Regions from separate parts of the Homo sapiens genome. Here regions 1, 2, 3, 4, 5 and 7 are each reported to be linked to region 6. Evidence: microRNA targets listed by miRTarBase, many of them from high-throughput screens and not tested one by one. Region 6 holds a microRNA gene; each other region holds the end of a gene's coding sequence.
What was found. Region 6 holds the annotated microRNA hsa-miR-1-3p (UGGAAUGUAAAGAAGUAUGUAU, at 2,212-2,233, opposite strand). A microRNA usually pairs through its seed, bases 2 to 8, with sites in the 3' UTR of a target mRNA and lowers its output. Matches are read on the target gene's strand: a 7mer-m8 pairs with bases 2 to 8, a 7mer-A1 pairs with bases 2 to 7 and ends in A, and an 8mer does both.

Region 1: the mRNA of RAB27B is a reported target of hsa-miR-1-3p. The part of its 3' UTR that is shown has no 7-base or 8-base seed match.
Region 2: the mRNA of TBC1D9 is a reported target of hsa-miR-1-3p. Seed matches in the 3' UTR shown: 7mer-m8 at 2,022-2,028.
Region 3: the mRNA of SLC75A1 is a reported target of hsa-miR-1-3p. The part of its 3' UTR that is shown has no 7-base or 8-base seed match.
Region 4: the mRNA of FBN1 is a reported target of hsa-miR-1-3p. The part of its 3' UTR that is shown has no 7-base or 8-base seed match.
Region 5: miRTarBase lists OARD1 as a target of hsa-miR-1-3p. Seed matches in the 3' UTR shown: 7mer-A1 at 3,586-3,592.
Region 7: miRTarBase lists CBR4 as a target of hsa-miR-1-3p. The part of its 3' UTR that is shown has no 7-base or 8-base seed match.

What each region holds. Positions count from the first base shown.
Region 1 is chr18:54,888,905-54,893,264 of GRCh38, forward strand. RAB27B (RAB27B, member RAS oncogene family) reads left to right here. Exons shown (of 6, transcript NM_004163.4): 6 at 320-4,360. The coding sequence ends at 509. Among named protein-coding and RNA genes, the nearest start is that of RAB27B, 63 kb to the left of the region's middle.
Region 2 is chr4:140,618,600-140,622,959 of GRCh38, reverse strand. It overlaps TBC1D9 (TBC1 domain family member 9), which reads left to right. Exons shown (of 21, transcript NM_015130.3): 21 at 43-2,178. The coding sequence ends at 765. Among named protein-coding and RNA genes, the nearest start is that of UCP1, 52 kb to the right of the region's middle. RefSeq lists an enhancer at 4,150-4,360.
Region 3 is chr4:2,927,070-2,931,429 of GRCh38, reverse strand. It overlaps SLC75A1 (solute carrier family 75 member 1), which reads left to right. Exons shown (of 13, transcript NM_001146069.2): 10 at 1-55; 11 at 156-203; 12 at 280-369; 13 at 477-863. The coding sequence ends at 592. ADD1 (adducin 1) reads right to left here. Exons shown (of 16, transcript NM_001354761.2): 16 at 1,368-3,259. The coding sequence ends at 2,907. Among named protein-coding and RNA genes, the nearest start is that of SLC75A1, 5.6 kb to the left of the region's middle.
Region 4 is chr15:48,407,166-48,411,469 of GRCh38, reverse strand. It overlaps FBN1 (fibrillin 1), which reads left to right. Exons shown (of 66, transcript NM_000138.5): 66 at 91-3,157. The coding sequence ends at 480. Among named protein-coding and RNA genes, the nearest start is that of DUT-AS1, 77 kb to the right of the region's middle.
Region 5 is chr6:41,063,373-41,067,732 of GRCh38, forward strand. OARD1 (O-acyl-ADP-ribose deacylase 1) reads right to left here. Exons shown (of 6, transcript NM_001329686.2): 6 at 1,400-4,065. The coding sequence ends at 3,963. It overlaps APOBEC2 (apolipoprotein B mRNA editing enzyme catalytic subunit 2), which reads left to right. Exons shown (of 3, transcript NM_006789.4): 3 at 729-1,519. Among named protein-coding and RNA genes, the nearest start is that of OARD1, 6.8 kb to the right of the region's middle.
Region 6 is chr20:62,552,224-62,556,583 of GRCh38, reverse strand. MIR1-1 (microRNA 1-1) reads right to left here and starts at 2,278; the gene lies at 2,208-2,278. It overlaps MIR1-1HG (MIR1-1 host gene), which reads right to left. Exons shown (of 4, transcript NR_171007.1): 2 at 2,919-3,119.
Region 7 is chr4:168,986,184-168,990,543 of GRCh38, reverse strand. It overlaps CBR4 (carbonyl reductase 4), which reads left to right. Exons shown (of 5, transcript NM_032783.5): 5 at 216-2,954. The coding sequence ends at 394. Among named protein-coding and RNA genes, the nearest start is that of CBR4, 22 kb to the left of the region's middle.

The DNA.
Region 1 (4,360 bases), not on the chromosome of region 6:
AGTAGTTTTATTGATCAGAGGGTATTTTTCCCCTCCTAATTTTTTTAAACAGTGATAATGCCTTGGCTTCAACTTCCTGACTACCTCTTGTGTCAATTTCCTTGCCCATAAAACTGGTTGTAATCATACTAAAGAGCAGCTCACCAATTTTTACTCACTGAGGAAAAAACAAGGATGCTTTCCAACTTAGCCAGCAAAACCATAATCATTTCACAATCTCTCAGCCAGCCGTTTTTGCATGTGTGATTCACTTGTACATCTTGCTGTATCTGTTCTGATTTCTTCCTCTCAAAAATATTTGCCATCCTTTCTATGCTAGCATACCATATTTTGAAACAAGTGCAGCAACTGGACAGAATGTGGAGAAAGCTGTAGAAACCCTTTTGGACTTAATCATGAAGCGAATGGAACAGTGTGTGGAGAAGACACAAATCCCTGATACTGTCAATGGTGGAAATTCTGGAAACTTGGATGGGGAAAAGCCACCAGAGAAGAAATGTATCTGCTAGACTCTACATAGAAACTGAACATCAAGAACCCCACCAAAATATTACTTTTAAAAACAATGACAAACCACACAATTGTTGTTGAGTAAACCACGCACAATGGCATGTCTTTCTTTTTCTGCCAGAAAATCTATTTTAAGAAACCAGAATAGTCAACAGTGTTCAAAAGAATTGACTAGTTATCCCTGAGGCCCTTTCAAACATGATCAAAGATTTCCCAATGTGATCTCATCATCATGGATACTCAATTTGTTTTTTCTTATAGAGAAAATGAGTATATAAGACAATATACAAGAAGAAATATCAGTGAGTTTTAAATCAGAACAAGTTACCTGTCACATTGAAGAAAAGGGTAGGCACTAAAGGGAGAACACAGAAAGAAGAATTTCTAAAATATTGGATTTACTTCTTATATTGAGTCAGATGCATACTTTTAGATTTGCATTGGGGAAAATGTACTAGCTAAAAATGGATACACAATGAAGAATTCTATTTGGCTAATTAAGAATGATATACTATGTACACCCAATAAGCTGTACTAGAATGAATAAATTACTGATAAGGTTACAAATAGGTAAATGTCACACTTCTGTTAAAATGCAGGAGGTAGTGTCATAATGCCGTCTTTATATTCTTAATAAATAGCACTTTGACAAGAACAGGACTGTAAATGATGAAGTACAAGACAAATACCCTGGGAAAAAAAATGAAAGTATGAGAAATTGGCATTTCTACAGCTGAAATTCAATGTATCTGTTAGAGATGTCTGGAAGGGTTACTTAGCCAAATTTTACTCAAGCCAATTAGGAGCTGATATTATCAGTTGGAATTAAGAGAACTCCAGAGGTTTCCATTTCAAACAAAATTTTAGAAATTGGTTTGGTGTTCAGCTTCACATTTCATTTTTTCTTAGCACATGTTGATAAAATAGTCACAAGGAGAAATTACCAGTTACGGTTTATTAAATCTCTTTTAAAATGCAGTCAAGGAAAACTAGCCTTGAATTTTTTTTAGATAAAATAAGATGGTGATATGAAACAAAAAGTGGCAATTATTGCAGGTTTCCTTTTAGTTTACAAAAGTACTGGAAACTAAATCATATTTCTTCCCTCCAAATTTCACCCATTCCTGACTTTGAATCAATTGCAGAAATGCAGGTGTGTTACTTTGTTGATCAATAACTTTGGAACAATTATGGATCAATTCTATGGTCACTCTGAATTTTCATGTCATTAATCACATAAAAATTGATAATACCTCATTCTGTATTACAATATGATTTTATTTTGCCAAAGGCAAGACACCTATAGTTGAGCTGTATTTTGGGGGATTGGGTGAGGAAGGACTTCTGATCTTATCTCAACAAAAAACTGGCCAGTATTTTTGTTAATGTAAAGCTTCCTTTTCTTTCTAAAAAATAGTAACAAAATTATTTTTCATTGGCCTATTCTGTTCTTGTGTCTAAACTAACATTACATTAATTTTTAATCTTAGTTTCTGATAAACACAAGCCATTCCTATCAAAATATTATTTATTTCAGTCAATTTTACCAAATAACAAAGACAATATATTTTCGTTTTTTTTTATTATGAGCATATGATTTTTTGACAGGCTGTTTCCTCGTCGTATAGATTTTTTCCAATCAAACCTACTTTTTCCATACTCTGTGCATATTTTTTGTGAAGTTATACACATTGAAGACCCTAAAAATCCCAGTCCATCATTCAGCTTACCTCTGCGAACTTCTATCTGGTATTGAATCAGTTTCAGAAACACAGACAGATCCAAGGAAATGTCTCTTTATAATGTTCTTAGGATGGACTAGACCCATAAATGTGCCATGAATCAAAATATTAATAATTTGAAAGCTTTCATGCTGTTAGCCCCTGATGAAATTCTCAGCATTAACTGGCCAGCTCCTCTGATTTCTGCAGCATCGCAACAGGTTCGAAGATGGGTTGTGGCTGGGTATTCCCTCCCATGGTGTTTCCTCTGGGATGCTCTTCATTATCTCAATGCCTGTGCCATGAAGATAGAAAACTGTAAGCTAACATTTAAGATGTTTCTTCTGGAAGGAAAGTGAGCAGGAACAAGTTATATTGCCACTGCTGTGGCAAATTTTGGTGAACTTTTGGGGTCATTATATCAATTTTTTCTTTGGATTCAAATTGTAATGTCCCCTGCATTTCCTTAATAGGGAATGTGAAACCTTTATAAAACTCTAAAAGTATTCTGTTTTGATATGTCTTTTTGTTTCTATTCATTTTCAGTTATATGATTGATTTACTTATGCCAAGATTCTGTCACTGTCAGTTATTTAATGAGTGTTTTTTCAGGGTCTGTTTTAAGATCATTATTTGATAGCTGTAGCATGAAGCAGAGGTTGATGATGCCCATAATTGCAAGACTATTCCTGTAAAAATAACAATTATTGGGTAATAACTTCAAGAGGAATGAGAAGTGACAAAATTGATTTAAAATATTGTTCTACTTATAAATAAATGCTTGATATAAAAAATTTTCTCCATAAAGTTTGACATCTGACCCCAGATTCTATGTAATCATTATTAGAAATTCCTTCTCTCATTATTTCAGGATTAGTAGTTCTGTGTAATTCATTTTACAATTTCAAATTGTTCTGGTGCCATAAAGTATACAGACTACTTTAAAGATTTCCAAATCCCCTAATTTACCCCACAACAGCATGTAATTTTAGCCAAGATATGTCCTGTTACTAAGTATCTCCCAATGCTTTAGTAAAACGTATTTAGGAGAAATGTTGAAAATGTACATGAAGCTCCTTTCTGATATAGAAACCATTTCTGGAGTATTTACACTGGTTTGATGTTTACATTGCTCTAACTCGGTGCCTCAGATACCTCTGTGACCAAATTTGTCTCCAACCACATAGCTCATTTCCTATAATGTTATATCATAGGAAGCCCTCACAGAGACACTAACACAGCTAAAGATCTTCTGATATTATCAGCAAGGGATGCAAGGACTTTATTGGAATCTGGAGAGTTTAACTGCCTTCTCTTGGTCTCCTCACTTACTTCTTATGAAGTTGGCATTACCTGAGACTCTTAGCTGTGATTAGGTACAAGCTTACCTTTTAGGGTAGAAAAAGAAAGATCATTTGAAAAATGTATCTAAAATAATCCAGAGAACATAATGTTTGTCTTGGTCTGATAATGATAAGAAGTCAAGGATTGGCAGAGAAAATACTAAACGCCAAGAGTTGAGCCTGTGGGTCTCTCCATAAGAGTTTTAAAACTCTTGCCAGTTACCACTTTATCCAATTTGCTATCATTTTCGTATTATCAGCTATCGCCCTGTAAAATATTCAAAACTAGCTATTTCTAAAGTAAACATTTTATCTGTTACTTTTAACCAGATAGGTGTCTTTGTCATCCTTCTACTATAAATTGTTCTTTGCCAACCTGTACAGGTAGATGAACCAGGCGAGAGTTTTAATCAGCCTTTTCTTGTCCCCTTTGTAAGAAAGAGATGCTTGCCATAGAGAAGGACATGAGTACATTAAAAATAATTTAATAGCCACAATATGATGTTCTTTAAGCTGCAAATTGAGTACACTGGGAATCAACAAATTTGATGAAGCCTGTCTGTCTCTTCACCAGTGGAGTGAGTGCAGCAGTTAGAAAGAGAAGCAATATTGTGCAACTGGTGCAGTGGTGAGTTAATCATAGTGTATAACCTTGTGTTCATGAAACAGGTTGTTCATTGTTCTGCATCTCTCTTCATTTAAAAAGGATACACAATTCTTTCCTCATTGCATATTACACCAAACGTTTGAGGGAAAAATCCTCATTCGTAAAGGATTTTGGATGTA
Region 2 (4,360 bases), not on the chromosome of region 6:
CCCCCAAGATTTCACATTGTGTTTTTCCAAATCGCTTTTCAGGGGCAGTTCATTGAACTGTGTAAGACAATGTATAACATGTTCAGCGAAGACCCCAATGAGCAGGAGCTGTACCACGCCACGGCAGCAGTGACCAGCCTCCTGCTGGAGATTGGGGAGGTCGGCAAGTTGTTCGTGGCCCAGCCTGCAAAGGAGGGCGGGAGCGGAGGCAGTGGGCCGTCCTGCCACCAGGGCATCCCAGGCGTGCTCTTCCCCAAGAAAGGGCCAGGCCAGCCTTACGTGGTGGAGTCTGTTGAGCCCCTGCCGGCCAGCCTGGCCCCCGACAGCGAGGAACACTCCCTTGGAGGACAAATGGAGGACATCAAGCTGGAGGACTCCTCGCCCCGGGACAACGGGGCCTGCTCCTCCATGCTGATCTCTGACGACGACACCAAGGACGACAGCTCCATGTCCTCATACTCGGTGCTGAGTGCCGGCTCCCACGAGGAGGACAAGCTGCACTGCGAGGACATCGGAGAGGACACGGTCCTGGTGCGGAGCGGCCAGGGCACGGCGGCACTGCCCCGGAGCACCAGCCTGGACCGGGACTGGGCCATCACCTTCGAGCAGTTCCTGGCCTCCCTCTTAACTGAGCCTGCCCTGGTCAAGTACTTTGACAAGCCCGTGTGCATGATGGCCAGGATTACCAGTGCAAAAAACATCCGGATGATGGGCAAGCCCCTCACCTCGGCCAGTGACTATGAAATCTCGGCCATGTCCGGCTGACACGGGCGCCTTCCCGGGGGAGTGGGAGGAGAGGGAGGGGAGGGATTTTTTATGTTCTTCTGTGTTGAGTTTTTTCTTTCTTTCTTTTAAATTAAATATTTATTAGTACCTGGCTTGAAGCCTAGTGTTTTCATAATGTAATTCAATGAAAACTGTTGGAGAAATATTTAAACACCTCAATGTAGGTACATTACACTCTTGTTGCGGGGAGGGGATTTACCAGAATACAGTTTATTTCGTGAATTCTAAAAAACAAAAAGATGAATCTGTCAGTGATATGTGTGTATTATAACTTATTAATCTTGCTGTTGAGCTGTATACATGGTTTAAAAAATAGTACTGTTTAATGCTAAGTAAGGCAGCAGTCATTTGTGTATTCAGGCTTTTTAAATAAAATTAGAGCTGTAAGGAAAATGAAAAGCCACAAATGCAAGACTGTTCTTAAATGGAAGGCATAGTCAGCGAGGGTAAATCCTATACCACTTTAGGAAGTATTAAAAATATTTTTAAGATTTGAAATATATTTCATAGAAGTCCTCTATTCAAAATCATATTCCACAGATGTTCCCCTTCAAAGGGAAAACATTTGGGGTTCTAAACAGTTATGAAAGTAAGTGATTTTTACATGATTCCAGAATAACACTTGTATTGACCAATTTAGACAGATACCAGACCAATTTTGCATTTAAGAAATTGTTCTGATTATTTACGTCAACTCATTAGAATTCAGTGAAAAGTAACAGTCTTTTGTCACAGAGAATCTGAAAGTAGCAGCAAAGACAGAGGGCTCATGACAGGTTTTTGCTTTTGCTTTGCTTTTGTTTTTGAAAGAGTAAAAGTACTGATGCTTCTGATACTGGATGTTTAGCTTCTTACTGCAAAAACATAAGTAAAACAGTCAACTTTACCATTTCCGTATTCTCCATAGATTGAAGAAATTTATACCACATATCGCATATGACCATCTTTCCATCAAATCAATGTAGAGATAATGTAAACTGAAAAAAAATCTGCAAGATAATGTAACTGAATGTTTTAAAAACAGAACTTGTCACTTTATATAAAAGAATAGTATGCTCTATTTCCTGAATGGATGTGGAAATGAAAGCTAGCGCACCTGCACTTTGAATTCTTGCTTCTTTTTTATTACTGTTATGATTTTGCTTTTTACAGATGTTGGACGATTTTTTCTTCTGATTGTTGAATTCATAATCATGGTCTCATTTCCTTTGCTTCTTTGGAATATTTCTTTCAACACATTCCTTTATTTTATTATACATTGTGTCCTTTTTTTAGCTATTGCTGCTGTTGTTTTTTATTCTATTTACAGGATGATTTTTAAACTGTCAAATGAAGTAGTGTTAACCTCAAATAGGCTAAATGTGAACAAATAAAATACAGCAAATACTCAGATACAGCTTTTTATCTTTGTGCTTGAGTTCCTGCCTAAGGCAATAACATTATTCTTTTGACAACTTTTGCAGGGGAAATTATATCAGGCAACCATTTTGATTAAGTAAATAAATTTTATAGGCAAACATAGAGAGAGAAATACAATTTGTAGTATATCAATGACTATATTTAAAATAAGGAATATAATTGTTATCAGTTATCTAACTTAAAATGCTTATCCATAATGATCAGTGATATTCAGCTTTTTAAAATATGCTTGTTGGTTGCATGTCTGTCTTCAAAACCACAATGAGATACCATCTCACACCAGTCATTAAAAAGTCAAAAAAGAACAGATGTTGACGAGGTTGTAAAGTAAACAACACAAATATACCGTTGGTGGGAGTGTACCTTAGTTCAACCATTGTAAAAAGCAATGTGGCAATTTCTGAAAGAGCTAAAAACAACTACTATTCAACCCAGCAATGCCATTACTGGGAATATACCCAGAGGAATATAAATCATTCTGCTATAAAGACACATGCATGTGAATGTTCATTACAGCAGTGTTCACAATAGCAAAGACATGGAATCAATCTAAATGCCCATAATGGCAAATTGAATAAAGAAAATGTGGTACATATACACCACGGAATACTATGCAGCTATAAAAAACAAGATCATGTATTTTATGGGAACATGGATGGAGCTGGAGGCCATTATCCTTAGCAAACTAATGCAGGAGCAGAAAACCAAATGCTGCATGTTCTCACTTGTAAGTGGGAGCTAAGCGATGAGAGCACATGGACCCAGAGAAGGGAACAACACACACTGGGGCCTCCTTGAGGGTGGAGGGTGGGTGGAGGGAGAGGAACAGAAAGAAATAACTATTGGTTAATAGGCTTCGTACCTGGGTGACAAAATAATCTGTACAACAAACCCCCATGACACTAGTTTACCTATATAACAAACCTTCATATGTACCCCTGAACCTAAAATAAAAGTTAACAAAAAAAAATACTCATTCCATCTAAGTAATGACGGTGAAAATGCGTCTGTTTAATCCTTATTAACATGCTATAATGCCATTTGGTTTAATCAAGTAGCTAGTCATTTATTGGACTCTAAGATTATTACACGTGACTCCATGTGTTTTTATCTTTGATGTCTTAAATATGCCTCAAGAAATAACTGCAAAATCTAATACTCTCACCCACCTGTACTTTGCCAAAATCAGAGATAGCATTGAGCGGGAAATAAGAGTGTTTTGTTTAAATGTGTAGCCCTGGATATAGAAGAGGAGCCAGCATTTTCCATTGTCATTAAGAAAGTGACAGTAAATGAGTAGCAAGTCCCTCTGAAAGCCTGTCTCTATTAATATGCTGAGAATTCTGTTGCAATCTTGTCCTTATTCGTTCAAGCACATCATAGTGCTTTTCATCACAGCAGCAATATACTGCATAATGGCAGGTTTTAGTCTGTGTTTACTTCTAAAGGATGCACAGGGAGGAGCCTGAACCCTTGAGCTGAAATTTCCAGCTTCGTCTACGAGACAAATAGGCTCGTCCTCTCATTCGCTACATCAGAAGAACATCCTGGGGGAATTATTCCGCCCTCAGCTTCCAGAAGACAGGTGACACATTTCTAGTTGTTCATGGTTGTGTTATGCACTTTTCGTGTCTCCATGGATTACTCTCTTTGATTTCAACTTGTGATTTACCATCTTCTCTGTTTTTTGGGGGGTGTTTGTTTTGTAGGGGTTTTTGTTTTGTTTTGTTTTGTTATTTGTTTTTGCTTTTGAGACAGAGTTTTGCTTTTGTCACCCAGGCTGGAGTGTGATGGCACAGTCTCTGCTCACTGCAACTTCTGCCTCCGGGTTCAAGCAATTCTCCTGCCTCAGCCTCTGAGTAGCTGGGATTACAGGTGCCCGCCACCATGCCCAGCTAATTTTGTATTTTTAGTAGAGATGGGGTTTCACCATGTTGGCCGGGCTGCACTCGAACTCCGGACCTTAAGTGATCCACCCGCCTCGGCCTCTCAAAGTGCTGGGATTACAGACATGAGCCACCATGCCCAGCCATTATCATCTTCTCTGGCCACTTTACCCCCATCTCTGTCAGTCCTTCCTATGCTAATATAATAATGATGACACCAGTGCAGAGGAAGGGCTCAGTGTCTATATCTCGGTGAGGTTCCTGCTCCA
Region 3 (4,360 bases), not on the chromosome of region 6:
GGCTGGGGACGTTCTCTGCCCGTGCTGGGCCTGGGGCTGCTGCTCTACTCCTTTGGTGAGTGGCCCTGCCCTGGCAGGGGATCCGATGGGCAGCAGGGGCTGGGTGATGCACCCTCCCCTGGGCTGACGGGCACCTCCTCGATGTCTCCCACCAGCCGCCGCCGTTGTGGTGCCCTGCCTGTCCTCCGTGGTCGCTGGCTATGGTGAGCCCCCTTCCCTCGGCCGAAGCCACCTGAGCGGGAGAAGGGCAGTGGTGCCTGACTGTGCCTCTTCCCACAGGCTCACCAGGGCAGAAGGGCACGGTCATGGGTACACTGCGCAGCCTAGGTGCTCTGGCCAGGGCCGCGGGGCCCCTGGTGGCCGCTTCAGGTGAGGGCGCGGGATGGTGCTGGGGCAGGCTGGGGGCCAAGCACCTGCCCTCGCCTCCCAAGTGCCAGCCCCCTCGGGGACTGGGTGACGCCACCGTCTCTCCGCAGTGTACTGGCTGGCCGGGGCCCAGGCCTGCTTCACCACGTGGTCCGGGCTCTTTTTGCTCCCCTTCTTCCTCCTGCAGAAGCTGAGTTACCCGGCACAGACGCTCAAGGCTGAGTAGCTGAGCCACTGTGCCCAGGCTGTGGGCACCAGGCAGAGTGGGAGCCTAGGTCAGGCCCCTGCCCACTGCCTGACCCCCACCCCCCGCCAGTCCAGGGAGACCCTGTGGGTGGGGGCCGGCCCCTAAGCAGGAAGCTCAGGCAGCTCCTCCAGACTTACTTACTCCTTCAGTGACTCCGAGCTGCAGCACTCCAAGGCTGTCAGGGCTTCTGTTTGTTTTTTAAACTATGCACCAGGTTTCTGATGATGAAATAAAGCACCTGTTTGTTTTATACCAAGTGCCTTTCGCCATATATAGCCGTGCTTCTACCCACACCAGGAAAGGCAGCTGGAGCTGAATGAATGGCTCCACTGACCGGAAGGGTCCAAGGCTCTTTGAGACCCTCAGTTTCCCCCTCTGCACAGTGGCAGCCTGGGGACTCACTCAGGCAGGCTCCTCCAAGGCTGGGGTCAGCCCTGGCCAGGTGGTATCTGGCAGTGTGCCCCGCACCCTGGCAGGATGTCCCCAGCACAGAGCCCTCCCCATCAAACATGAGCACACAGTGACAGTGAGACTGGGACCATGGGGACAAGGACAGGCCAGCAGTTCCCTGGACACCCTGAGTTCCCGTGGAGAGGGACACCAGGAGTGCTGGGTGGCACGTCCTGCCGCACGCGTGGCTGCAGGTGACATTTTATCAAGACATGAACATTAGGAGGTCTCTTTTCAGCACGAGACAAACATGGGAACAAAGAAATTAAAATATAAAACTGCTTCCCAGATTTAGACAAGGAACTTGCTGAAAGAATTTTATTTGTGAGTAAAACATGTTACACTGGAGAAAGGACATTCAGGACCTGTCCTCCCAAGTCGGTGTCCATATATGCAACTATATTTCATGTTGTAATACAAAGGATTAAACTACAAAAGTGAAAATTAAAAGTCATTGCATATGTGGGGTAAAGGAGGGGATAAAGGAAGAGTCCACGGTTAAGGACTTTTCATTCTGCCTTGGCAACAAAACGACACAGAAGAGAGGCAGCACGCTTGCCCGCGTAGCAGGCCCTGCGGCTCAGAGGAAGCTGGAAGCGGCGGTCAGTGCCATGCAGCAGCCTGGTTCTCGCTCGGCTGGCCAATCAGTGGGATCCGAGGTGGCTCGGCCCATCATGCCCAGGATCTGAGCCCACATCTGGCACCAGCTCTACCAAGGGCCTGTTGGGCCCACACAAGCTTGCCTGTACCTAGTCAGGCTGGTACCGGCACCTCCTGAAATGGGTCACCCTCCGGTTCCTGCTCAGCAGCTCTGAGCCCTTTTCCAGCCTCTTGGAGGGAAGTAACAACAACAGCATCTGCCGAGGAGCACACGGTTCAGGCTCCATCAATGACGGTGATGTCGAGGGGCCCCAGGGCTACCCTCCACCTCGAGTTACCTTTGATCACAACTAGGGCATCTTTCTGGCTGAGTTAAGGTGAGAACAGTCCCCTGAAGCCTCCCCCAAATAAGTGAAAAGTGCTCTACTGTGGGGTCTGGAAAGAAGAAAGCAAAAAGCAGCCTATTCACGTTCACAGTCGAAAAATGTAAGCTAAATTGTAAACCTGCTCAAAGAAAATTCTAGAAAGGCCTCTTCCCCTCCTGATATACCTTCCCTATGACAGGAATCCAGAGACCCAAGTGAAAAAGAAACTGAGCTCCTGAATCTGATTCTGGTCGAGGGATCGTCGGTCAGACATGCATAGCATCACGTTGGGTGCACACAGGCCCATCTGCCGCTGGGGTTTCCTGCCCAGCATCTGGCCCAGACCTGCCTCTTCAAGGCCGCTGGTGGGCACACGAGTGTTTTCACGGGACCAAGGCTTTGTATATAGATTTAAGTGAGATCACTGAGCAGAGAGAATGCCACATGAAGCCAGGAGTCTGAGTCCGTCACCTGAGACTTTAGGGTGGAGGGGAAGCCAAGCAGAGACAGAATGTGGTGATTTCACAACAGGAGGGACGGCAGGAAAGGTGAGGCTCAGGAGGGTGACGTGCAGCCAAAGCTGCAGAAGCCTTCAGTACCTTCCAGCCAGGACCATGACTTAGTGCCTCCCCCCTGTGGGGAGAGCATGTCTCCCCCAGAAGCTGAGGCTCTGAGAGGACAAGGGGCAGGGTGGGGTGGGGCTGCTGAGCACACACTGGGTCAGCCCGGGGCTACACGGGGCTGGTCACGTGAGGGGACCTCTAGGCGGAGGGCTTGGCTTTTTTGCATTCCATTACACAAGGACAGAGCACAGACGTGGCCGGGGACGCTGGCAGAGCCAGGGTCGCTCCGGACAGGACAGTGTTAGCGCAGGGCTTTCAGGAGTCACTCTTCTTCTTGCTCTTCTTCAGAAAGGACGGGGTACGGAACTTCTTCTTCTTTTTGGACGGGGACTTGCCTGGAGACCCATCGCTGCCAGGGTCCGCGGCGGCCCCCTCCTCGACAGCTGAGGGGGCAGCCTCTTCAGCCACCGGGGCTGGGTCTGGGGCTGGCTCGGGGCTGGCCTCAGTAGGGGCCTCAGTGGGGCTTGGGGGTCTATGGGCTTCCTCCTCCTTCTCTAACATTGGGAAGCCGAGTGCTTCTGAAGGTTCATCAGGGGACAGATCGGGGAGAGTTGGCTTAAAGGTGGCAGCATCACTGTCATCTCCAGTAGTCGGCTCCGGCACAAGGTCTAGTGGGTGAGGTGAGAGATGGGATTAAGGGTTCCTGCCCAGATCTCAAAGGGCAGCTTGAGATGGGGGAGCCCCACACACGAAACTGCCATTTTATTTTACTCTACAGATTTTTACCAAGACAAGAAACTTAAAATATGGTCTACTCTACTGTACGGCTGGATGGAGCTAATATCATAAAATACAGACTCAGTCTCGGGGTAGTTTTTAGCTCCTTCTGGTGGGCAGTGTGCTGACAACACCAGACTCCGTCCCAGGCCTGGGTCCCCCCGCCGGAAAGACAGACTGCAGCACAAGCTGAGGACGACTAAAGGAGCGACGTCCCGCTTTCATTATGTGACGAGAAGTCTGCCCTGTCACCCTAAGGGCATGTACTAGTAGTACTGAAATTAAGTCTAAATTTGGGTCTACAACACCTGGTCTCCCCCAAAACAGCCAGTAGAAAATCGTGCATAACTCCCACAGCACGTTGTGTGACGTCAACATCCAAAAGAACAAAGCCGTTTAGGCTGGAAGTTAATTAAAAGGAAAGAGATGGCCTGTAAGGCAAGGAGTGGGGGCAAAAACTCCACCCAGCATCAGGAGTGGCCATCTGTGAAGGAGCACAGCGGCCCTGAGGACACAGCCTGGGGGCGCCTTCCTTGCACTTACCCGGGCACCCGCTCTGTCCATTCGTAAACGGCCTACAAAGTTACCAGCAACTGACAGGTTAGGCACCACAAGCTGTTTAGTGTTTAAAAATCAAGCCACACATCAGGGCCAGGGGAGTCAGCTGAGTGGTTAGGAGCAGCACAGGAGGCCCAGGCCCCAAACTCTCAGTGCTTTACCTTTGGGAAGCTGGAAGCACCCCCACCCTGCCAGCTGCCCCAGGCTAATTCCAGGCCACGCTTCATGAGAACCGGGAAAGGGCTATGGGCACACAGGCGCCGCTCCCCCTGAGGAGATGGGGCCCGCTCTGCTGGGCATGGTGTGGCTGATGCTAGGACGGAGGCTGCCCCAGGGCACTCGCTCTGGAGAGCTGCCATCATCTGAGTGAACATCACACTGCTTTACGAGGGTCCAATATCCGCTCCTCTGCCCACCTCCTTTGGACCAGCTTC
Region 4 (4,304 bases), not on the chromosome of region 6:
TAGTGTGAAATTTGAGTCATTTTTTCTTTAATATGAGAGCTAAGTGGCATATGTACATTGTATTTAACATATTGCCATGTGTCTTTCCAGGATCAGTCTGAGACAGAAGCCAATGTGAGTCTTGCAAGTTGGGATGTTGAGAAGACAGCCATCTTTGCTTTCAATATTTCCCACGTCAGTAACAAGGTTCGAATCCTAGAACTCCTTCCAGCTCTTACAACTCTGACGAATCACAACAGATACTTGATCGAATCTGGAAATGAAGATGGCTTCTTTAAAATCAACCAAAAGGAAGGGATCAGCTACCTCCACTTCACAAAGAAGAAGCCAGTGGCTGGAACCTATTCATTACAAATCAGTAGTACTCCACTTTATAAAAAGAAAGAACTTAACCAACTAGAAGACAAATATGACAAAGACTACCTCAGTGGTGAACTGGGTGATAATCTGAAGATGAAAATCCAGGTTTTGCTTCATTAATTCACCATCCAGAGACCAAATAATTAAAAGAAAAACAAATATAGATAGGTAGAACTATATTTTCCCCCAATCAGAATCATCATATCATAGGTACAATCTTTCACCAAGTAAATTTGTATAAATAAGCACTATTCTTTGTATTACCAAAGCAAGGTACAGGTGACTACCCTAGTTCAAAACAACCACTTTCTCAGGCTTCTCATGTGTGTAGCTAAGCTACCTTGTCATATGTGTTGATTCTTGAAAACTGGGACGTGTATTTCCATTGGGGGTTGGCCATTTATGCTGACATGCCATCCTTCCAGCAAACGTACGGGAATGTGCTTTCAATTGATGGACTACTCTATTTTTTGCAAATTTGTAAACTTTGCTTCTCCAAATACAAGTACTAGGTTGTCCATTTATGGTACCTATTTGGTGCTAGTAAATTTTCAAACTAGATTTATAAATGCACTGTAATATGTACACAACTTAGAAACCAAATTACAAGTATTCAGTTCCAATACTTCATTAATTTCAATCAACCAAAGTTAGTTCAGTAGCTTATCTCAGTTATGAGTATAATACATTACATGTAAATTAAGTGTGTGTATACTGTAATCGTGCTATTTTTTATCATTGAAACATTTATAAACTAGAATAATAATGCCCTTAATGTGAGGGTTTGTAATGGTGCTTATTAAGACCAAAGACTTGTTAAATGTATACACCAAGTGGTAATGAAATTTCGGTGACTGGCCCACACGTGCATAGAGGTCTGGGAGGACCAGGAAACAGCCTCAGTGGCCAGAGGATCACCAGTGCATCCTTCATCACAGCATGTGCAATATGCCAAGATTACCCTCGGTCATTCCTGTCAACAAGGGGTCAATGTCATAAATGTCACAATAAAACAATCTCTTCTTTTTTTTAGTTTACCCCTTGGCTTTGTGTTCTTGCATGGATTTGGGGTTGGAGGGGCCATTCCGGAGGCTAAATAAAGTCTCCTGGATTTAAATTATCCTGGGTCTCTTACTTATGGCTTATGAAAGTACCAAATGTATAACCACTAGAAGAAAATTTAACATATGAGTCGATCCCTTGTTTTATCCATTGAAAGTAGCAGAGTCTGGTGTCATTAACCTGACTTGCTTGTGAGAAATTTAGATTGTAGAGTCATTTCTGAAACATGACCTAATTCATCTTGTGACTTTTAAATAGTCTTAAATACCAAGTTCAGTCATTGTCTTAGAGCACATGAATTTCATTATAATAGATTTATCATGCCCCCCTCTCAAATATACACAGTTTTGGCAAGCCTTAGGTGTTCTGTTCCATTTTTTTTTCCCCTAAACATCTTTCGTTAGTCAATGCTCATCTAATTACAAAGGGATAATCCCAGACTGTATCCAATTGCTGTAACTTTTGGTTTCTTAATGTCATAATTTTTAAAGTCTGTTTTATTTTAAGTGCAATATTGAGTATTTAGCTGTTAGGCTCAATCCGTCGATATGAAATAATTTTTTAAATCCCTAAGGGCAGGAAAGCATTTCGTGGTAGTGAAAATAAGAGGAAATAAGATGGCATGAAGGTGGTGGGCGGAGAAACTAGGTAGGACACAGGAAAGTGCTCTCAAAAATCTTTGAAGAGCTCAGCTGAAAAAAATGGAGTAGATTTGGCTCATACTATTCCGGAAGGCAAAACCAGGGTCAGCTGATGTCAGCCCCAGTTTAATACACACGGTCCCAATTATAGAGCTACTCACTGAAAGAATGGGTTTCCTTGCATTGTGGTGAGCTCCCTGTCACAAGATAGAAGAGTTTCAGTCTAGGCTTAATGGCAACCATTGGACAAAGATGCTTTCTTCCACCTAACAGGCCATTAACATCTTAAAGGTATTTTTGTATCTCTAATTTTGTTTATAATAGGTGCTCAACAGAATGAGCTGAATGGCTGTTACAAAGGGGGTTTGTACCTTGGGTAAGAGATTAAAATATAACTCAAAATTTCCTTCTAACGCTGCACCTATGGAACCATGTGATAGAGGTGTATTAAAATTGTTATCGAAGAATATATAGCATATGGTAAACAACAGTTTGCATATGGAAAATGTCTTTGATAATTTAACCAGAACTGCATTATATTCAATAACGGATTTTCTTTATAACAAACAACAGGGGAAAATGGAGTTGGCACACAGTGGATCACTTTGATATTTTTAATAGTCCAAGTCTGGATTTTATTTATTCCTGAGCCAACAATTTTGAACAGCATATTTTCCATGTTTCTGACTGTAACAAAACATTTTCCTCATTGTTCCATTGTAAATATTCCTCTTGTTGGAACTCTTTTTAATCCTGAGATTTAAACCTGTACCTTTCAATTGTCTGTGACCTTTCAATTTCACTTTCAATAGTTGAAGAACTTGGCTTTGTAAATCTCTCAGAAGCTTGAAAATATCTTGTCTCTACCCCCTCAGCCCATTTCATTTGCCAATAATTATTTTGTAAGTAGGGTTGAAATGAACTCAGCTGGCCTTGTGAAATGTTTAAACTTGCACAAACAACTACATTTTTGTTCAACAAATAGCAGTTTACTCAGCCAAAATCACTTTGGATATTGCCATTACAAATACTGTTAAACTTCAGAAATCATGTCTGTAAATTAGATGAGCCAAAATAAAGGACAATTGGGTTGATGCTGCATTAGTATCCTTAAAAGTTATATACCCATAAATGTTAGGGATTTTAAAATTACCATCAACTTGGTCCACAGAATATATTTTATTCTGGTTTTAACTGTAGTTCTTAGAGAACTGTATTAGAAATGTAATTATTAGGAATGTAATTATTAAATGATTTAAGGACATTGTTTTTAAAGTTAGAAGATCATTACTGGCAGAAATATTAGTTTCACATTTATAGCTGAAGACAGATATTTACCCCTTGCCAATTTAAAATAACACTTTGTAAAAAAGAGAGAAGAAAAAAAAAACAATTTACTTCATTATGCTTTTTTTGAAACCCAGTATGAGCCTGACATTACGTATGAGTTAGGAAAGGATGATCTATATTATTCTGAGTGTTAGGGTTGGAGAGATAGAAAAGGGCTGTACACTTGACTTTGCAAATTTCCATGTATATTCATGACTGGTTTTATTCACAGGATTGGATCTCAGTTAAAGACATTCTCACAAATATCTGCATAAACATGAGGGTCTTGTACATTTGACATGCATTTGGCAAGACCTGACAAAAATCACAAAATCTGTTGTTTCAACTAACTGCTAATAAATCTAAAATGGTTTCTTTTTTTCAAACAAAGTCATAAACCTTGTTTTAGGACATAGGTTGCTTTGAATCCTTGATTCAAACCTGAATTATGGCTGGGCACTGTGGCTGATGCCTGTAATCCCAGCACTTTGGGAGGCCAAGGTGGGCAGATCACTTGATGTCAGGAGTTTGAGACCAGCCTAGCCAACATGGTGAAACCCCATCTCTACTGAAAACACAAAACGTAATCAGGCATGATGGTGCGCACCTGTAGTCCCAGCTACTCGAGGGGCTGAGGCAGGAGAATTACTTGAACCCAGGAGGCGGAGATTGCAGTGAGCTGAGATTACACCACTGCACTCCAGCCTGCATGGAAGAGTAAGACTCCATCTCAAAAGAAAAAGAAAAAAAAAATCTGAATTATAACTTCTACAAATGGATGTCAGTTTCATTTTTTACTGTTGGATGGTAGAAGGACTGAACCAAGTTATAGCAGGTAAGTGGATGCGATTTCTGGCTAGCTCCACCCTCTGCTATCTCTTCATTGTGATTTTTGATCTTTGTGACCATCCC
Region 5 (4,360 bases), not on the chromosome of region 6:
TCCTTGAAGATTTTGTTAGTGTATGTACTATCACTGTAATTATAAACCCAACATAGATTCTACAGACTAACCGGCAGCTTAAAATTTAACCCCAGTATATTTTCCTTTCAGACATCTTTCAGAGTCAAGGGCCCAGGTGCCTAACTAGCAAGTCCTTAGAGCTTTTTTTTTTTTTTTTTTTTTTCAGTGATTTCAAATATAACTGTATTATCTGGACCCATTAACATGCTTCCCTGTCTTCTATTTGAATTGCTCATGTTTGTGAAGGGAAAGGTTAAGATATATCAAGTTAAAAAAAAAAAAACTGGCATGAGATAAGAGTGTAATCTAAAAGCCCAAAAGAACAACCCTGCTTAATTAAAATAATCTTGAGAAATGAGCATTTGTTAAATAAAGTGTCTTATTTTACATACTTATTTCATCTTTCTTTTTTTTTTTTTTAATGACAAAATAGTATTTAATCCTATATTTAGTCAAAAGACCAGAGTTAAACCAGATCTCTTCTGGGGCTTTTTCTGTGTAAACCACATCAAAACATGAACGAAAGACTGGCTTCTGGTTTAGTCAATCCTGGTAAATTTACCCAATCCTGCAAAGGAAACTATGGAGGAGAAATCCAGGGACTTGTTGGGAAGGGCACACAGAAACCTTAGTTCAAAAAGAAACTAGTCATTGTTCGGGGCCAGCAGAGCTCTCAGTAACACATTTTCTTTGTTTGTTTTACCAAGGTATTCCTGCTGCCACCAAGAGACAGCAATGACATGTACAGCCATCTGGGACATGCCTGTCTTCCTAATACCATTTGGAGCTGGACAACATTTGACACCAACCAATCATACTGGACAAGGCCCTTAGAGGACTTGAAATATACTTCTCATGCTGTAGTTTATTTAGGCTGTGACTCTCTCTCTAATGCTGCTCTCGGGAAGGACGAAAGTGACCTGCAAGGAGAGAAATGCAACCATACATGGGCTCCAGTCAACTATGGGACTGAAGGTCCTAATTGCTCACCCAAGGGGGCTGCTTAACACAAACAGCCTCAGACCCGAGGTTTAGATTTCTGAAATATGCATTTTATGTTAAGTTGGGTATTTTTTTAAAAAAAGAAAAACAGCAACATTAATAAAAGAAGTGGTGTGTTTTTCCCGTGGCCAGATTTTTAAGAAACTTGAACATCTGGAAGTTGCCACAGACAAGCGAGCTAGTCCAGACACAGGGACACTCCAGGCTATGAACCAAGCCATGGTTAAACCAAGACTTGCCTAGACAATGCAGAATAACTCTCCCATACAGACTTCTTACGACAATCAAGTGAGGGCCTTTCCCTTCTCTGAAGGCAAGTAATAGGGCAGAAGGTGGAACAAAAAGCATGAGAAATCTAAGGTAGCCACATCCCAAATGCCAGTTAATAAGCAACTAGCTTCTTTATTAGAGAGGAGCGGGTGAAAAGTAGTAGTTTAATGTTCAGATATACAATCATTTAAAAGTATTCAATACATGGTGTTTGATGGTAATGGCAGGATGATGTCAAGTCTCTCTTTTTTTTTTTTTAAAGGTTTGTTTGAGTCCTATGTGGAAGCAAAAATTCACAGGTGAATTTCCGGGTGTTTGCCAAACTCTAACTAGGTTTCCAGGAATAATGTGTTCACTCTGATTACCAGGGCATGCCTCCTTTCCTCAGGCTTCAAGTGTGATAAGTCGTCGGAATTTGACCCAAGACTACTATCGGCAAATGACAAAGTGCTTTATCACATTCCTGCTAAGTCCCAGAATTCCACTTACAGCCAATCCTGAATGAGACTAGGTTTTGTCTAAAGAATCAAGGCTCAAACGCCAAGAAAAAAATAATAATAATAACCATAATCTCTTTAAAAGTAAAGGAAGCCTAGAAAATCCATGTTTTGACTTGTGTTAAGGTTTACAGATGGTACTCAATTTACAATGGTTTGTCTTGCAATTTTTGGACTTTACAACGGTGCAAAAGCCATACACATTCAGTACACCCTTCAACTGAACTCAACTTAAGATGGGGTTACCCAGACATAGACCTAAGTTGAGGAGCATCTGTAATTGCAGAGTTAAGCAAAATATTTTAAGTTTCTTTAAGTTTCTTATCCCCCACTCTCACTTTCAATTTTGTGTATTTAGATAATCTCTCCTTCCTTTTTCCCTTCAACTTTATGTGGACAAAAGCAATGCTTCAAGAAAAGCCTCAATCTAAAAGTTTGATAATGAACTTGACCCTCCACTGCCCCTACCCCAACAACATGAAGAACTTGTCTGTTCCACCTAGAAATACAAAAGTGAAATACTTTTTTGAAACTGTTGCCTCTTATCAGGCTGATATGTGATAAGAACACAGTCTAAAGTACAAAGATTATATTTAACCAGTACTTTCCTGGTGTTTTAACCAGCCCCTTCTAAAATACAGTTGTTCTTTTATACTTGGGAAAGCAGCAAGTCCTGTGACAGACCCAAAGTCACTCTAGGGAGAAAATCAATAGCAAGTCTGGCTGTTTTAACTCTCAACACCACTGTAAGGGAAAACAAGAAAATGTCTAGTTTCCCGAATAGCTCTGATACTGAACCATTGGCTAAATCCATGAACTTTATTTTCCTACCATGACCACAATAGACGACTGGTCTTTGCAGCTTCGGAAGAAAAGAGGACTAATATTTAGACCCCAGCTGGCTGCACATCCAAATCTTCTATGGAGGTTAAAAACACAAAAGTGGCCATCCCACTCCACCACCAAATTTTTTTTTTTAATTGAGATAGGGTCTTGCTCTGTTGCCCACACTGGAGTGCAGTGGCACAATCACAGCTCAATGCAACTTCAACCTCCCAGGCTCAAGCCATCCTCCCGCCTCAACCTCTAGAGTAGCTGGAACTACAGGCCTGCACCACCAGGCCCAGCTAATTTTTAATTTCTTTTTTTTTTGTAGAGACAGGGTCTCGCTATGTTAACCAGGTTTGTCTCAAACTCCTGGGCTCAAGTCATCCTCCAGTCTCAGCCTCTCAAAGTGCTGAGATGACAGGTATGAGAATTTTTTGAGAGGAAGTGGCCTTTATTTTTTTAAAGAAGACTCATAAGGATTTTTGACAATCACTGATTTATTGGGTCACTAGTCTGTGCTAAGTACTCTGCCAGGCATTTAACATACATTATTTCACTTGTTTTCATGATTAAATTCAGGCAGGTTCAATCACAGAAACCATGCAGTGGACAAAAGAGAGAAAAAGTTCACCATGAGGAGATTCTAAAAACCTGCCTTTTGACTTGTCTATTTTTATCTCTTATTTCTCACTTTGCTTCTCCTCCCGCTTGGACCCTTTGTCTGACTGTTTGAAATTAAGTTGCAGGTGAACCCTCCATTACCCATGTCCAGAACAAATAGACATAAGCACAGAACCTCACTAACTCCCCAAATTTTTATTTTTCCATTTTTATCACCACAAATTTCTTGGTAACAATGTAGAATTTAATTTTGTAATTAAAACAAAAACTCTCCCCTAGGAGGAATCTGATGACATAAGGATAACACCAAGTTATGTGCACAAACGACAAAAAATGCCAAACTAACTGGAATGATCATCCTTCCTGAAATTTCTCTTAAAAAGCAGAGAAGTAGAACCAATGCTGCCACCTAGTGGCCAGCCAAACAAATCAGGTAGCATACTGGAGAAAAAGGTCATAGTCCCGACAATCTGGTTTCCCTGCCTATTATCAAGCCACCTAACTCCTTACTTTTCCACAAAAAAACACAACCACATATCTTAAGCAAGCCCTCCTCCACAGTCATAATCCAAATACTTGAATACAGCAACCAAAGTCTGTCTTGTTAAACACACTACTTCTCATGAAACTTTCCTCTGCCTATTTTAAGGTAGGTTTGCCCGGTCCTATGGCCCAGTAGAGATGACACAGGAGAACACGGAAACATCCAAAATGTTCACTGGTTCAGAGTGTGTACACAGTAATTTTGATGTCTGTTGCCTCAAATACCTCCTCGATCATCGCAGATACATTTTCCCATTGCAGACGATCAAGACCACATCCAATCCTGAAAAAGACAAAATATCTCCATTGATGGTAACGAAAGTATCTAGGAAACTGCTCCTCTCTTTTAAGCTATATCCACTCAAAGCATAAAAACAAATAATCTAGTCTGACACCCTTATGGGCAACCATGGTAGGAGTTTGGAAGTCAATTCTTGTTGTGAGTCACCGAAGACCATTCCTAGACAGCTCTAACATCCAAAAACTATCACTTCTGTTTGCCTAATAAGATACTACTTTCCAACTATTTCATGCTACATTTAGAAATGTGTAACTGTCATGACATTAGAGACTCATTA
Region 6 (4,360 bases):
CTGCCTGCTCTCCCCTCCTTCAAACGGACAGGCACAAAGACCCCCACAGGGGAAAGTCCCAGCGTGTCCATGCCCCACGCCAGTTTGGGGTTCCCGTCCTGGCTGCTGCCCGGGAGCCAAGCTTTAGAGATTCACGCATGGGAGACTCCAGCCCCGGGTCCCAGTGTCTCCAGGAAAGCAGCAGGATCCCCAGGGAGCACCATCAGGCCACACGTGCAGGGGAGAGGGGCTCGGGCTGCCATGGGCGGTGTCCGTGCAATGCTCATTTTTAATTCAGCAGATCAGAGACTGGAGGTGATTTACCGCCAAGCAGGCCGCAGCTCTCTCCCTGTGAACTCTCCAGTTTTACTGCTCAGTCAAACCTAATTCCAAAACACTAATGCTTTTATTTAAACACCACATCCTGCAATAAAGCTTTAATGTACAACAGCCGCATCTAGGGGAAAAGAACGGTGTGTCTGTGGCCACCGGCAGCCTCGGTGGCCACACGCCCGGCTACTTCCCTCCCTGTGGCCGGAGCTGGGAGCAGGCAGGGAAGAGATGACGTCAGCGGATGCTGGGCACTGACCCTCCGGGTCCAGAGGCCGAGAGGAGGCTGTGCCCGAGGTCAACACCCGCCCCCTTGCTGCTACGCCAGATGGGGCTGAGGCTGGGAGAACGAAGTTTCCAGAAGGAAGACCTGAAGGCCAGGAGCCCTGACTGCCAGGCCCTCCCCTCCAGTCACCTCGAGGCTCCCTGAGGGGTGGGAGCCACCTGAAAGCTCAGAACGGCCCCCAATCCCTTTATCCAGCGCTCCCTATGCTGGCCCCAGCTGCTCAGGTGACCTGGCTGCCCCCAGACCCAAGGCCTCCAGCCGCTGCAGGAGGGGGCTGCCTGCCTGTCCCTTCCCGCCTCATTCCTGCCGAAGGCCAGGGTGCGGGAGGTAGGGCACAGGGGCACCGCTGTGGCTGGAGCAGTGCCAAGGCAGAGAGGACACACACCCCAGAAATTAATCCTGAGGCCTGTGGCAGGGTGGGGGTGCCCAGGCAGGGACCTGGCCTCATCCCAGGTGGCAAACGCCTCCAATCTGAGACTCAGAAACGAGCCGGGCAAACGCCCCTCACACAGCAGCCCAGCCGCTGCCTAAGACCCCAGAACCCGCCGCCCATCCTCTCCTTGAAGGACCAGCACTGGGGAAAAGGGTTTCACGGACGGATCCGGACCTGCCCTCATCCCCTGGGCCCCAGGACATCCTCCCAGTCCTTTCTCGGGTCAGGACTGGGATGGCGGCAGAGCAGATGGCTCTCAGGCCCCCGACAGGTGGGGCAAGGGGCCCTGGGCCACACGCTGCTTTCTGCCAAAGCCTCACCTGCATTCACAGCAAAACATGCCTCAGGTTGGATTCGGCGGAACAGAGAGAAAGCTGAACCGGGGCTTTGGTGGGGGTACAGGTTGGGGCGGCATGAACCAGACATTTGGCAAAATCGAACGGCTCCCAGGCCCCTGGGGTGGGCTGTGGGTTCAGGGCTGCACAGACTCAGCTCCTCTGACCCTGTCCCAGGTGCCCTCGGCAGAGGAGTGGGGCCTAAGGGCAGTGGTGGCCCTGACCCTGCCCGCGTCCCCAGCATCTCGTGTGGGCTGCGCCTTCCTTGGAGGCTACATGCCTCCGAGTTCCTCTGCCTTGCCCTACAGCCGGGAGGGCTGGATGCAGGTGCAGGAGGTGCCTTCCCTCCGCAGACTCTACCATGTGCTGCCCAGCCTCTCCCTCCTTTCTGCATCCAGCCACCTGCCCTTTTCCAAACTCGCTCTTGTCTTGTGCCTCTGAGCAGTTTCTGCCCTGGCCACACGTGGCCCTTTCTGCCGGCTGATGGCCTCTTCCAGGATGGCCATCAGTGGAGCCCCCAGAGCCGCCGCCACCACTCCGTGCTTTCCAGCCACGGCCCCGACCCCCCAGCCCTCACCAGCCCCGCGCTGGACCCCGCGCCTGCCGGAGGCCGCCTCCCCTCTGCCGCAGTCAGCAAGCTGAATATTTAATGTCTGGTGAGCACTTCCACCTGCTGACACAGGCAAAGTGACAGAACAATGCTGGCGGGGACACGACCGTCCACCAACGCCCAGGCAGCCTGCCGCCCCAGCCTCACCCCCACCACAGCCGCCTGGCTGGCTGTCGGCCGCGGCGGCCCCCGTGGTGTGGAGTGCCCCTCAGTGCGGCGAGAGAGGTCCCGGCCTGAGATACATACTTCTTTACATTCCATAGCTTAGCAGGTCCATATGGGCATATAAAGAAGTATGTTTCCCAAGCAGGCAGTCTGCATGCAGTTCCAAGACCCCGGGACGCCGCCCCGGTAGAAGCTGACCCCACTGCGATGTAGAGAAGGCAGCTCAGAGGCAGTGTAACTTCTTCCCTGGAGTCTACTGCCGGAGCCCTCTCTGTGTGAGCAGGACAGCCTTCCTGCCACTGCTGCCTGGTGTCCAGCCACCCCCAGGGGCCCAGGACTCCCTGCCCCCTTCTGACCTCGGCGCCCCTCCATCCCTGAATCCATCTCTCTCTGTCTGTCTCACACACTCACACGATCCAGAAAGGCAGAAGTGGACAGTGAGCCCCAGAAAGTCTCGAGCGCCTGTCCCTGGCCCCAGCAGTAGCTCGGTTTTGCGTCCATGGAAGAGACAGGCTGCCCCTCCACCCTCACCCCAGAGCAGGGAGGCATCATCCATGTCCCAAACTTTCAAAGCCAACACTTTCCTGTCCCCCTGGGTCACCTCATCCCAGCCAAGCCCAGAGAGGGCTGGGTGGAGAGAGGAACCTTGGGGGGCGCCCTGCCCAGCACCCCACTCGCAGGACCAGCCTCCTCCTTCTCCGGGAGCTGGACAACTCCTTGCTCCTGAGGCCAGACGAGGAACTGCAGACCAGAGACCCGAGAGGTGTCCTGGGGGCTTACCTGGGCATCTGCTGGTTTCCTGGGCAGGTCCCTGGTGAAGGCTGCCTCCCGGGACCCCGTATCCATGAGGAAGGGCTCAGCACCTCTCTCCGAAGATGCAGGCGAGAAAGACGATGCTTGGAGGAGTCCAGGTTCCCAGAGGGTGGTCAGGATCTCCTGAGAGGCCGTCCACTAGGGGGGCAACTCCCTAGGTGCCTCAGCCTGGCCACAGCAGACACCCAGTGGGCGAGGGAGCGTCGCTCCCCCGGTTCTCTCCCTCCTTCTCTCGCTCTTCTTCACCCTCTCCCCCGTCCCCGCCTCGCAGCGTCACCACCCTGAACCGCCGCGCAGTGCGGCCCACCTGAAGCGGCAGCTGCGCAGAGCCAGCAGCTTACATGGGCACCGGGGGTCAGCAGCCACCGTCACCTGCCCAGCGCCACTGCCGTGGCACCCCCGGGAGGCTGGTCCCACACCTGGCTCTTTGTGGCCAGCCGCCCAGCCTCCACCAGCCCCTGATCAATACCAATTTACAGTCAAATGCAGGGGGCCGCCTTCCTGTTAATGAATTTCCCGGTGCTCACCAGCTCCTAATGAGCCTGTTAAAGAGGGTTTAAGTAAACTTAGCGAGTGGCAAACTAAGCACTTTGGAATACTTAATTGTATCGATATGTTTTTCATTGCGTTTAAAAATGTCTCTGAGTGGGAAGCAGAGGCTGCCTCCTTCCCTGCCAACTTCTATGACCAGCCGTGAAGCCAGACTCTGAAAAATGTGGAGAAAGAGCCAGAAGGAGACCAATGGGACCTCAAGGTTAGGCCCTCACCAGCAGGAAGGGAAGCCGCCCCGAACCTGCTGGGAGCGGGGAGAGGAGGAGGAGGAGGAGGAGGAGGCCTGCAGGGTTTCGAGGCCTCGCAGTGGCCCAGGGCGAGCCTGGCACGTGCGGTGGTGAGAGGTGGAAAGAAGGCTTTGCAGGTGCCTGGGGGGGACGGGGGCCAGGGAGGCGCCAGTTGGGGGTGCAGGCCGGGCACAGACACAGGAGGCTTGCTAAGCGGTGGGGTCCAGCTGGGCCCTGGCCCCTGTCCTGCCACTGACCCTGGCGTGGGGTGGGACAGCAGCCCCGGGACATGAAAGGACCTCCCGTTGTCCTCATCAGGAAGAGAGGTCCAACATGACTCTGTTGCTCCTCCAGGCAGCCCGTCCATGCGAGGGGACAGCCCGGAGCGAGTTGGTTCTCTCTTACCACCCAGGGCAGGGCAATGTCTCCGCAGAGCCTGCAGTGTGCAGAGGCCACTGAGCATGCTGTGGCTGTGTGGCAGTGGGTCTGCAGCTGGGCATGGCTGGGTTGGAGTTTCACGTGGGGGTGGGTGGGGGCGGGGGGTGGGGGTTGTGCTTAAGGCTCTGGAGGCATCCCCTCTACAAAGGAAGGAGCAAATGGCAGACAGAAGCAGAAGCTGATGTCCCATTT
Region 7 (4,360 bases), not on the chromosome of region 6:
GATCACCTGTGCCCCAGAGGTCCAGGCTGCAGTGAGTCGTGTTTGCACCACTGCATTCTAGCTTGGGTGACAGAGTGAGACCCTGTCTCAAAAAAAAATTTTTTTTTAAATAATTTCAAATTAAAATTTTCAGAAACAAATTTATTATTTTTTTTGAAATTCAGCAGATGTCTTAGTGTGTACCCTTTTCAACTAAACAAACATTTCTCTTTTAGGATTTGTACACACAGATATGACGAAAGACTTGAAAGAAGAACATTTAAAGAAAAATATTCCTCTTGGGAGGTTTGGAGAAACTATTGAGGTGGCACATGCGGTTGTGTTTCTTTTAGAATCACCGTATATTACAGGGCATGTTCTGGTAGTGGATGGGGGATTACAACTCATTTTGTAATTTGCAGATTATTCAGTTATAGGGGTGATTAGCATCAAGGGCACACTTTGGCTACTGATTAGACAATTATACCTACATGGGTAACATGTGCTAATCAAACCTGCTGATGCTACAAATGTTAATTTCTGTCTTTATAAAAATATGTCTCAAAAGAACAATGTGTGACAAATTGTGGTTTTTTTTTTTTTGGTCTAAGTTACATCAGTGTTGTTTTGTTTAAAAAGCCTTCATGAGATACAATTCACATACCATATAATCACACATTTAAAATACACAATTCAGTGGTTTTAACATATTTAAATACATGTGCAATCATCCCCCCAGACAAATTGTGTTTTCTAAAGGATGTGTATCACTTACCTTTGGTTACCTCATAGACTGTAGCAATCTTAGTGTATAGACATTTTGCAAGTCATATAAACAAGTATTGATTTATATATTTTGTCTCAAAAGTGGAAAAATTATATTGTCTAATTATGATGAATTATTTTCTTGTATCAAGCTGAATTTTCTAAAAGTTAACCTTGTGGGCTGTTGCCAAAATAAGAGTATTTAGAGGACACTGATTAGTTGTCAATACTTTAGCAAGCCCACTAAAGATAACTATATTCCTTTTGCATGTGCTTGGGTGATCAGTTTTTATACAGGTTGCAAAACATAGTATTCATTAAAGACATGAATTTAGAATTGATTTCTTTGAGTGGTATTTCTCTTGATTGAGCAGCTAGACAAAATAATCTGCAAATTTAAATGTGGCGCATTTGACTCATTCTTGAGAAATTCTCATAAGTGAAGAGGATTAGCCCTTAAGGTTTTAATACCTGGTACAGTAGTGAACCGCACAGATTTCATGAACTTAGGATGTGTTTTTTATTCATGAAAAACTTAGAATAGTGAACTATTAATATTTAAAAACGAGAAATACAACATTTAAAAAATTAAGAGTATTTTGCATTAGTGATTATGATTCTTATCCCAAAATTCTAGAAAGTAATAAATTCTGTATGAATAAGCATAAAAAATAAATAAATATGCAATAACATTAAATTAAATGTCTTTACAAGAAGCAGTGAAGGCACTGGTCTTAAGTGAGAATATTTGCCTGGGAGTAGAGATAAAGACACAAACCGAATGTGAAATACCAGGTAATAATTATTTTGCATTAAACTCTTTTTATCGGGAATAGTATGATATTTTCAGTGTCACTCCATTCATGTTGATTTGGAGCTGACAGTTATTTTGTGTAAGCAGAGATTTAATTTTATATTGAAAGTCAGTGCAAAATTATGAATAGGATATACTAATAAATACAAAGTAATAACAAAAGTCAAAGCAGTGTTCTAAATAAAAATTCTGGGTTCCTTAAAAATTATTTTAAATTTATCTTTGAAATAGTTTTCTTAGATTAATCTCAGGATATGAGAAAGTCAATTAAGTGTGAGTAAAGTTAGTATCATTAAACAAATTGTCTATTAAATGCAAGACGTGGTAATATACAGAATTTATCAGGCATTACCAAGTCTAGGCACATATAGGAAATGCAGCACTCAGAATGGTTTCAATGTAGTAGTTGATGCTTGTAAGGTAGGGGAGCTTATTCAGACATAGTAGATAGTTTCTCTAATGCTGTCTCAATTGCTGGCCTTTGGCTACCTGTACTTCCCCATTATGGCAGCCCATTCAGTCTTGAGTTTTCTTCTCTGGACACCTTATGCTCTGAAATCATGAGCGAGGCTGATTCAATTGGTGATTTGGGTAGAAAGCAGTATGTTTTGCTGACATTAAGATGTAGGTTATAGATAGGTTTAGCCTTTAAGTGTATGTTTTTATACTTTAAAATAAGAAATATAACCTTTTAAGCTATTCCACCTCCTCCCCCAGCCTATCTCAAACTGGTGGAATATATGGAGAGATCTTGAAAGAGGTAAAATAAACCTTCACTGCTCCACTCCAGGTGAATCCGCCCACTCCCACTGACCTAGTAGAATTTGTAATTTAATACTTACCTTCTATTTCTGAAATCAGTTGTGAACTGTTGCCTTATGTTCAGAGGTTTAAGAACCTCAGTGAATTCATTTTTTAAAATCTGCTATTCTGAGAAGCATTGAATGAATTCTTAACAAGAAGACTCATCTGTAGCTGTTTGCTGACTCCTATGAGCCCATAAGGGTTCTGTGCTTAGCATTAACAAAATAAGGTTTATAGGTAAAGCCAATGTATTAATTTTTTTTTGCATGGAGGGCTTTAAAATTTGTGCTCTTTTTCATATTTTATTCATATTCAATTTATGGTTTGTAACTGCTTTTTAGGGAGATAATTATATGTTATAAATTAGTTTTGGGGGGAATAATTGTGCAAAGAGGATAATTTAATTTACGTGCTTCTGTTATTCAGAATAAAGAGAGAAGACTACGCTGCATATTCAAGAGTTGTACCTTAACATTGGTGAAACATTTTTTCTAAGATTTTCAAAAGGAATATGTGTAAATTGAGAAATCATAACCACTGTCCTAACTTGGTAAACAAACTGTTCTTAAATAAAGTATTTAATGATTTTAAACTTTCTGATGTTAATTTTATCTTTCTCTGCAACTATAAGAGTAGAGTTTAAAAATTTGTCTTTCAATTCAATTGTAAAACTTTTGAGGGAAGAGACCATACTGTGTTCATTCATTTAGCTAATTAAGTAACTCAACAGATACTGAGTGGGTACTAAATATTTTGTATTTGTTTTGATACCCACACCTTGCCTACTCATCTCTGAGTATATTGGATATATGCAGTAAAATATTCTTTAGTCATTACATTGTGCCATAGTTGGGGAGATCATTGAGATAAATCTGTTCTGACTCTCAGTTCATATCTTGGAATATTTCTTGATCAGATTCCTTTGGCTTTTTATGCGACTTTGATGCTTGCTTTCACTTTATAACTGAATTTGCAAAGTGAATCGACTATTTTCTCTTAGGCAGTATGCTTTCAGTTTGAGTAATTGTTAATACCAGCAATTTAATTAGAAAGCTTTGGCCTAATAATCCAAATGGAGATGGTATCAGTATTACCTGCAGAATATTTTTAAAAATAAATTTGAAACATACATCAGGAGACCCCCTCCCTGGAAATTTGAATAAGTGGTAGGCAGGGTGAGGGAAATGTGGAGATACATTTAAGACACTTATTTATTTATTTAATTAAATTAATTTATTTTGAGATAGGGTTTTGCTGTGTTGCCTCGGCTGGAGTGCAGTGGCATGATCACAGCTCACTGCCATCTCCAACTCCTGGGCTCCAATGATTTTCCTGCCTTAGCCTCCCAAGTGGCTGAGACAACAGGTATTAACCCTGCGTGACTAATTTTTTATATTTTTTTGTAGAGACAAGGTCTCACTGTGTCACCCAGGCTGGTCTTGAACTCCTGGCCTCAAGTGGTCCTCCTGCCTTGGCCTCTGAAAGTGCTGGATTACAGGCGTGAGCCACCATGCCCGGCCAGGAAAAATTCTTAAGTATTCAGATTGTTCATTCATTCACGAAATATTTATTTATTCATACTACATATGTAACACTGCTAGTAATAGGAGGTAGAATGGTGACAAAAAAACAACAAAAAACCGAACTCGAAGTTTCTGGAGCTCACAGAGTAATACAGTATGGTGGGGTCAAGCAGACTTAATCACACACATATAAAATTGCAACCAAAATATGCATTATAAAAATGAGAAGCTCTTATTGCTATTAAATAATTAGGGGAATTTGACCTATTCTAGAAGGTCAGGAATGGCTTCTCTGAGGCAAGGATTGTTGAACTAAAGTTAGAGTACAGTTGGCCCTCAGTATCTTTGGGGATTGGTTCCAGGATCCTCTGAGAATACCAAAATCTGTGGATGCTCAAGTCCCTTACATAAAATGGTGTAGTATTTGCATATAGCTTATGCATATCCTCCCATATACTTTACATCATCTCTAGAT